2 linked regions of the Homo sapiens genome follow. The protein of the gene in region 1 binds, or shares a complex with, the protein of each later gene. Each region holds a gene or a part of one and is shown in the gene's direction. Other genes may lie near its edges.

Region 1 (3,500 bases):
TCTTCAGTCAAATATATGTCGCAAATATTTTTTCTCATCAGTGACTTTGCCTTTTCATTTTTTAAGGGTGCCTTTTGAAGAGCAGCTGTTTTTAATTTTGATGAAGTCCAATTTGTCAGTTATTTGGTGGTTAGTGATTTGGGGGTTTCAGCTAAGAAATCTTTGCCTTGTCTAGAGTTGTAAAGATTTTTCCTTTAGATCCAACAGGCCTGCCCACTCCTCTGTATTTGGAGCCATTCTGAGACATCTTCATTATTTACTCCTTCCTTTTTCCTAATGTCTCCTAGTTATATCTGTAGCCAGGGGCCCAGATTCTGTTATGATCTAACAGTCCTCTAATGCTTCTCTCCCATTATTTCTCTGCACTAAAGCTCATCACCAACAAAATTGTTGTACTGTTGGTGCCAATGAAAACCATCACCTCCTGAGTTGTTTTCATACCAGTTCTATCTAAAAATGTTCTTTTTCTTCCTTTAAGTTTTAGAGAAAAAAACAGCCTTAGGGTCTGAGCTCATTCATTCATTTATTTGTTCCTTTTCAACAGAAAATGTGTCTGCCCACCATGGACCCAGACACTGGCAGTTGGGCGTGCACAGCATAGCTGGGCCCTGTCCTGTGTATTTCCAGTCTGGTGTAGAAGGTGGAACATGCCATTATGGGTGTGATCTGTGTGGCAGTTGTGAGGTGGACGATCTGCCACATGCCTTTCCCTCTGAATTCTGAATCAATTGAGAAATTAATATTAGAGGCCAATGGAGTCAAAGGCTCAGACTTACTGCTGGTAAAGCTAGACTAGAGAATGTGGTTTTCACCCAAGGCCACACCAGTGTTCCTATGCCTCCTACATCTCATTAAACTTGCCACTAGGTAATAGGCAAAGCAGCTGCATAGATACACGCCTCCCTTCCTCGGGATGGGCAGGGGATGGTTACTGCAAGAAGCAGCCAGAAACCTAGAAGGGAGGCCACATACTTGCAGGCAGGCAGGTCCCAAAAGAGCGAGCCAAGGTCAGGCCAGGCTCCTCTCATCACACGTGCCTGAATCCCCATCTCTCCAAACAGATAAGTGAGTTAGGGTAAGGAGAAGGGAAATAGGGGAGTAGAGGCATTCTCCCCCATGACTTCTGCAGGAGAAGTTTTGATTTTATAAACTCAAGCAGCAACTGGCCAAACGGTTTCAAAAACAAAGGTTGTAAAAATTCTTTAGAAAATTTTATGTTAAAAAAGTTCTATTTGATGTTGTCTGTGAGTGCCTGGTCTATGGAGAGGCCTTCAAAAGCCAAGGCACTTCTCAAAATGCTCAAATTGTGGCCCATGGGCCAGCTGCTATTTGTCAGCAGTGAACAACAAAATTGGGAGCTCATGCGAGGATGAAAATCAGTTGCATTGCGAAGAATGCTGTTAGTTGAGCTGACATTTGTGTTTTGTAGCAAGACTTTCTCAATGAATGAAGCCAAGTGCTGATATACGTACATTCTGGCACACATCTCTTACCTAGCCATGCGCTGGCACTTTGAGTAGCACTGGCCTCATGCCTCTGGACATCTCACTCCCCGCCTCCCCTGGCAGGGCGGTGATGGGTAGTAGACAGCTGGTGTGCTGGACATGGTGAACATGACCCTTGGCCTCTTCCTGCCCAGGTGATCGCCATGATCAAAGGCCTGCAGGTGCTCATGGGCAGGATGGAGAGCGTCTTCAACCAGGCCATCAGGAACACCATCTACGCGGCATTGCAGGACTTCGCCCAGGTGACGCTGCGTGAGCCCCTGCGGCAGGCGGTACGGAAGAAGAAGAATGTCCTCATCAGGTGGGTTTTCAGATGCCTTCAGGAGCATATCAGACATAAGCATGCCAGGTACCCATCAGAGAGGATGTCCTGGCTCAGCCACTGAACACACATGGGTCCTTCCAGCAAGCTCCAGAGGGCTCTTTAGGAGATTGGGCATTTGGGATGAATTAAGCCTTCATCTCTAGAAGTCCATATCCACTGCTATCTAGCTGTGTGAACTTGGTCAGGTTGCTGACCTTCTCCAAACCTCAGTTTTCCTCATTTGTAAAATGGGGATTATAATGCTACCTGCTGCCTGTTGGGATGATGAAATGAGATGGTCCATATATAGACCTAAGCACATGCAGCATGGAGTAAGTATGCAGCACATCTAAGCTATTATGAAAACTAAGCACACACAGATTTCATAAGACCGGTGAGACTCCCCTATAACCAGAAAGGAAATACAGACCTCTTGCCTCACACAAGTTCTGTCTCACTCGATGGGCTCAGAGCTGAGTTCTCAGACATCCCTTGGACATCAGAACCATGTAGGACACTTGTTTAAACACAGATTCCTGGACTGTACCTTAAATCTGTTAAACCAGAGTTTTGGAATTGGGGCAGAAATGAGCATGCTTTACAAGCACCCCAAGAATTCAAATGTGGGTGTTCCTGGGACACCACGGGCCCTAGAAACACAAGCTTGTAGTGACGTTTTCCCATGGTGAAACCTGGTCTAAGTCTTAGTTCTTCCTTCCCCAGCGTCCTACAGGCAATTCGAAAGACCATCTGTGACTGGGAGGGAGGGCGAGAGCCCCCTAATGACCCATGCTTGAGAGGGGAGAAGGACCCCAAAGGTGGATTTGATATCAAGGTGCCCCGGCGTGCTGTGGGGCCATCCAGCACACAGGTAAGCGGCTCCAGGCACAGGCCAGCTGCGTTGACTCAGAGGCCAGCCGGGCTATGGTAGATCATCATGGCTGGCCATGGGCAGTGGGACTGGGAGCCGTCGGTCAGGAGGGGCAGGGTTGAGTGGCTGCTCCGGTCTTATTCTGCCATCTTGTTTTGATATAGGAAGGAGGACCACTGGCTTAAGATTCAGGAGACCTGGATTCTAGTCCTAGATACCTGTGTGACCTCGGGCACTTTACAGATCTCTCTGTGCCTCAGTTGTTTAAACTGGCTAATGGGGATAATACCACCACATCCACCTTGCCTGGCTATCTTCTAGTCCTATGAAGTATAGATTCCAAAGTGGAGGAGGAGGTTAAAGTGGAATCTATCTGCATGCATCTATGCTGCCCCTCTTTAATAAGTCCTGGCCCTTTCCCCTAAAAGTTCTGCCTCTGACTTGCTGTGTGATCTTGGGCAAGCACCTTGAGCTTTCTGAGCTCTGATTATCTTCTCTGTAAAATGAAAACTTTGGATGAGATTGTGTTACTAACAAAATATTCCTTAGTTCCACATCCTTCCAAAAGTGCAAGTATTGAAAGCCCTTGTCCCCTTAGAGGAAGTCTAGTATTTGGAAACACTCAGAGTTGCCAGCCAGAGCTTCTGCACAAGAGGTCGCCCGTGGCTTATCCAGAGCAGTCATAACGTTACAGAAAAAAAAGTCAATAATCTGGGCATCTTCGTTAAATCCCTGCTACCTACTTAAGGATAGGTAGTTTCTGGTAATATTTTTGATGTACTGGAAAAAGCAGATGGTTCTCATTGCAAGTTTAAGGGTC
Region 2 (3,500 bases), on another chromosome or scaffold:
ACAGGATTCGCCATGTTGGCCATGCTGCTCTTGAACTCCTGGCCTCAAGTGATCCACCTCTGTTCAACCTCCCAAAGTGCTGGGATTACAGGCATGAGCCACTGTGCCTGGCCATAAGTGGATTTATTGCGATAAAAGTTATACAGTATGCCTACCTCTCCTGCCTCCCCTTCCACCTCTGCCACCCATGAGGTAGCAAAACCAACCTCTCTTCTTCCCCTTCTTCCTCAGCCTACTCAGCAGGAAGACAATGAGGATGAAGACCTTTATGATGATCCACTGCCATTTAATGAATAGTAAATATATTTCCTTTTCCTAATGGTTTTTTTTGTTTGTTTGTTTTGTTTGTTTTTTTGAGACGGAGTCTTGTTCTGTTGCCTGGAGTGCAGTGGTGCGATCTCGGCTCACTGCAAGCTCTGCACTCGCGCCACTGCACTCCTGCCTGGGCGAAAGAGCAAGACTCCATCTCAAAAAAAAAAAAAAAAAAGAATTTACTTTGAGGCCAGGCACAGTGGCTCATGCCTATAATCCCAGCACTTTGGGAGGCCGAGGCAGGTGAATCACTTGAGCTCAGGAGTTTGAGACCAGCCTGGCCAATATGGCGAAACCCCATCTCTATAAAAAATACAAAAATTAGCCAGGCATGGTGTCTCATGCCTGTAATTCCAAGCTACCTGGGAGGCTGAGGCATGAGAATCACTTGAACCCTGGAGGCAAAGGTTGCAGTGAGCCAAGATCGTGCCACTGTACTCCAGCCTGGGTGACAGAGTGAGACTCTCTCTCAAAGAAAAAGAATTTACTTTGAGGGAGCATCTGAAGTTCTTCAAATATGTTAGCAATTCTGTAGTCCTTACCCTGACCACAGAGAATCTGCATGGGCCATGTATTTTGGAGAGAGAACTGTTGTTCTAAGATAGTGAATGACTTTCTGAAAAGCATTTACCTTGTGATTCCTGCTGGTGAGAGTAGAGTCACAGTCTCCCACGTGAACTTGAGGACATACAAATCGTAATGTAGCAAAAATATCATAACACTAGGCCTATTTTGCACTTTGGAATTGGTGAAGTTTCTAAAAATAGATGGTTAGAGATTATCGCTTTTTATTCTTATGCTATTTTTTTCTGGTTCTAAAGGTAATATATGCAGAGAAGTATAAAGACAAAATAGAGAATGTGGCTGTTTTTTTAAAATCTTGGTTTTTGTACTGAGCCAACAAATGTAGCATGCCTGGTGTGTGTCAGATGCTGTGAGAAAGGAATAAATATGAATAAATGGGTATGATACCCACTCCTAAGACATTCAGAATTTTGCTGGAAAAGTAAGACTTAACTACAAAAACATTCCAAAAGAAAGACAGTTTTTGTTTTTTTTTTGAGACAGAGTCTCATTCTGTCGCCCAGGCTGGAGTGCAGTGGTGCAATCTCGGCTCACTGCAACCTCCGCCTCCCGGGTTCAAGCGATTCTTCTGCCTCAGCCTCCTGAGTAGCTGGGACTACAGGCATGCGCCACCACGCCTGGCTAATTCTTTTTTTTTTTTTAAGATGGAGTCTTGCTGTGTTGCCCAGGCTTGAGTACAGTGGTGCAATCTTGACTCACTGCAACCTCTGCCTCTTGGGTTCAACTGATTCTCCTGCCTCAGCCTCCCAAATAGCTGGGATTACAGGCACACACAACCATGCCCAGCTACTTTTTGTATTAGTAGTAGAGATGGGGTTTTGCCATGTTAGCCAGGCTGGTCTCAAACTCCTGACCTCAAGTGATCTGCCCACCTCAGCCTCCCAAAGTGCTGGGATTACAGGTGTGAACCACCGTGCCCGGCCTGACAGTATTGATTTTTGTAATGCTGAAGTTATATGCATTAAGTTCAGAGAAGGAGCTGTCTGATAACAGCATTTGTTTCCTAACGAGAACTGGTATTTTCAGTTAAAGGCTGGTGATAATGTACACATACTTGTGCTCTGGTTTCAGATTTATCCAGCTGCTGAATGCTTTCTCAGTGTTTTTTATTTGAACCAGCGTATACTTATTAGGATTTGAAATATGACCAAGGTTTCTGCAGTTGAACATTTTCTATTTCTCAACAGTGTTTATCCATGTAGGCCAGGAGCATAGTATTGTTCTTGAATTCTAATTCATTACCAGATTGACAGCTAGAACAGAATAGCCACCCAGGAAGGAAACTTCCCTCTCTCCTACCTCCCCCAATAATTTTCGTATGTCTTCATGGGAAATGGCAGGTTGTCAGAGATAATATTCATGCTCTTACTCAGTAGCATACATAACGTGCTTTCAGACTTCCAAAAACCAGACTGAAAAGAGGCTTGGTCCTGTTGGGCAGTTCCGACAGAAAGTGGCAGTACATCCAGGAAAAGGGGGATGCTGAAGTGATCATACTTAAGCTAGACCTGGGAATTCAAGCAGCACAAGCGTAAAAAGAATGAAGAATGTCCAGAAATGGCAAATCCATAGAGACAAAGATTAGTGGTTCCCAGGGACTGAGGGGTGACAGAATGGGGAGTGACAGGACTAAGAGGTATAAGGTATCTTTTGGGGATGATGAAAATATTCTAAAAGTAGATTATAATTATTGCACAACTCTGTAAGTATACTAAAAACCACTGAATTGTATACTTTAAGCAGGTGAAAGAATGGAAAGTGGCAGAGTTGGGCTGGAGACCTGGGGTATAAATTATAGCCCCGGAGGCACAGAAAGATGATAGTAGTGTGCATTGGGATGCACACAGTATGGGAAAGAATACCAGTGACCCAACATGGGCCCTCAGCTTACCTAGACCTCAGTTTTCCCACTTGTAAGGTGAATAGAGTTACACTAGAGTCAATCTTTTGTTCCACTAATATACCAGAATCCATCTTTTTTTTTTCAGTCAACATCTATGTACCAGGCAAGATGCTAAGGTTACAAGAGGCAATATGTACTTCTTTTGATTAACTTGTTCTAACGGTGAAACAGACATGTAAATAAATTGTAAATTACAAGTACATAAATATCATTTGGTTTCGTAACATGAATATTTTCCTATTTCATTAAATATTCCTCAAACTTTTTTTTTTTTTAAGACAGAGTTTCACTCTTGTTGTCCAGGCTGGAGTGCAATGGTGCAATCTCGGCTCACTGCCTCAGGTGATCCACCCACCTCGGCTTCCCAAAGTGCTGGGATTACAGGCGTGAGCCTCTGCACCCGGCCACTTTTTTTTTTTTTTTTTTTTTTTTTGAGATGGAGTCTCGCTCTGTTGCCCAGGCTGGAGTGCAGTGGTGCAGTCTTGACTCTCTGCAACCTCCGCCTCCTGGGTTTAAACCATTCTCCTGCCTCAGCCTCCAGAGTAGCTGGGATTACAGGTGTGCGCCACCATGCTTAGCTAATTTTGTATTTTTAGTAGAGACAGGATTTCTTTTTTTTTTGTATTTTTAGTAGGTATGGGGTTTCTCCATGTTGGTCAGGTTTGTCTTGAACTCCGACCTCAGGTGATCCGCCCGCCTC

The links. The genes of interacting proteins can lie anywhere in the genome.
Region 2: CYFIP2 (region 1) and BRK1 share a complex: the UniProt entries of both Homo sapiens proteins name them as parts of the WAVE1 complex.

The regions. Positions count from the first base shown.
Region 1 is NC_000005.10:157,318,123-157,321,622, forward strand, and holds part of CYFIP2 (cytoplasmic FMR1-interacting protein 2), read left to right. Parts: intron 1-1,639; coding exon 1,640-1,806; intron 1,807-2,532; coding exon 2,533-2,680; intron 2,681-3,500. UniProt on the Homo sapiens protein: Involved in T-cell adhesion and p53/TP53-dependent induction of apoptosis. Does not bind RNA. As component of the WAVE1 complex, required for BDNF-NTRK2 endocytic trafficking and signaling from early endosomes.
Region 2 is NC_000003.12:10,118,675-10,122,174, forward strand, and holds part of BRK1 (protein BRICK1), read left to right. Parts: intron 1-3,500. UniProt on the Homo sapiens protein: Involved in regulation of actin and microtubule organization. Part of a WAVE complex that activates the Arp2/3 complex. As component of the WAVE1 complex, required for BDNF-NTRK2 endocytic trafficking and signaling from early endosomes.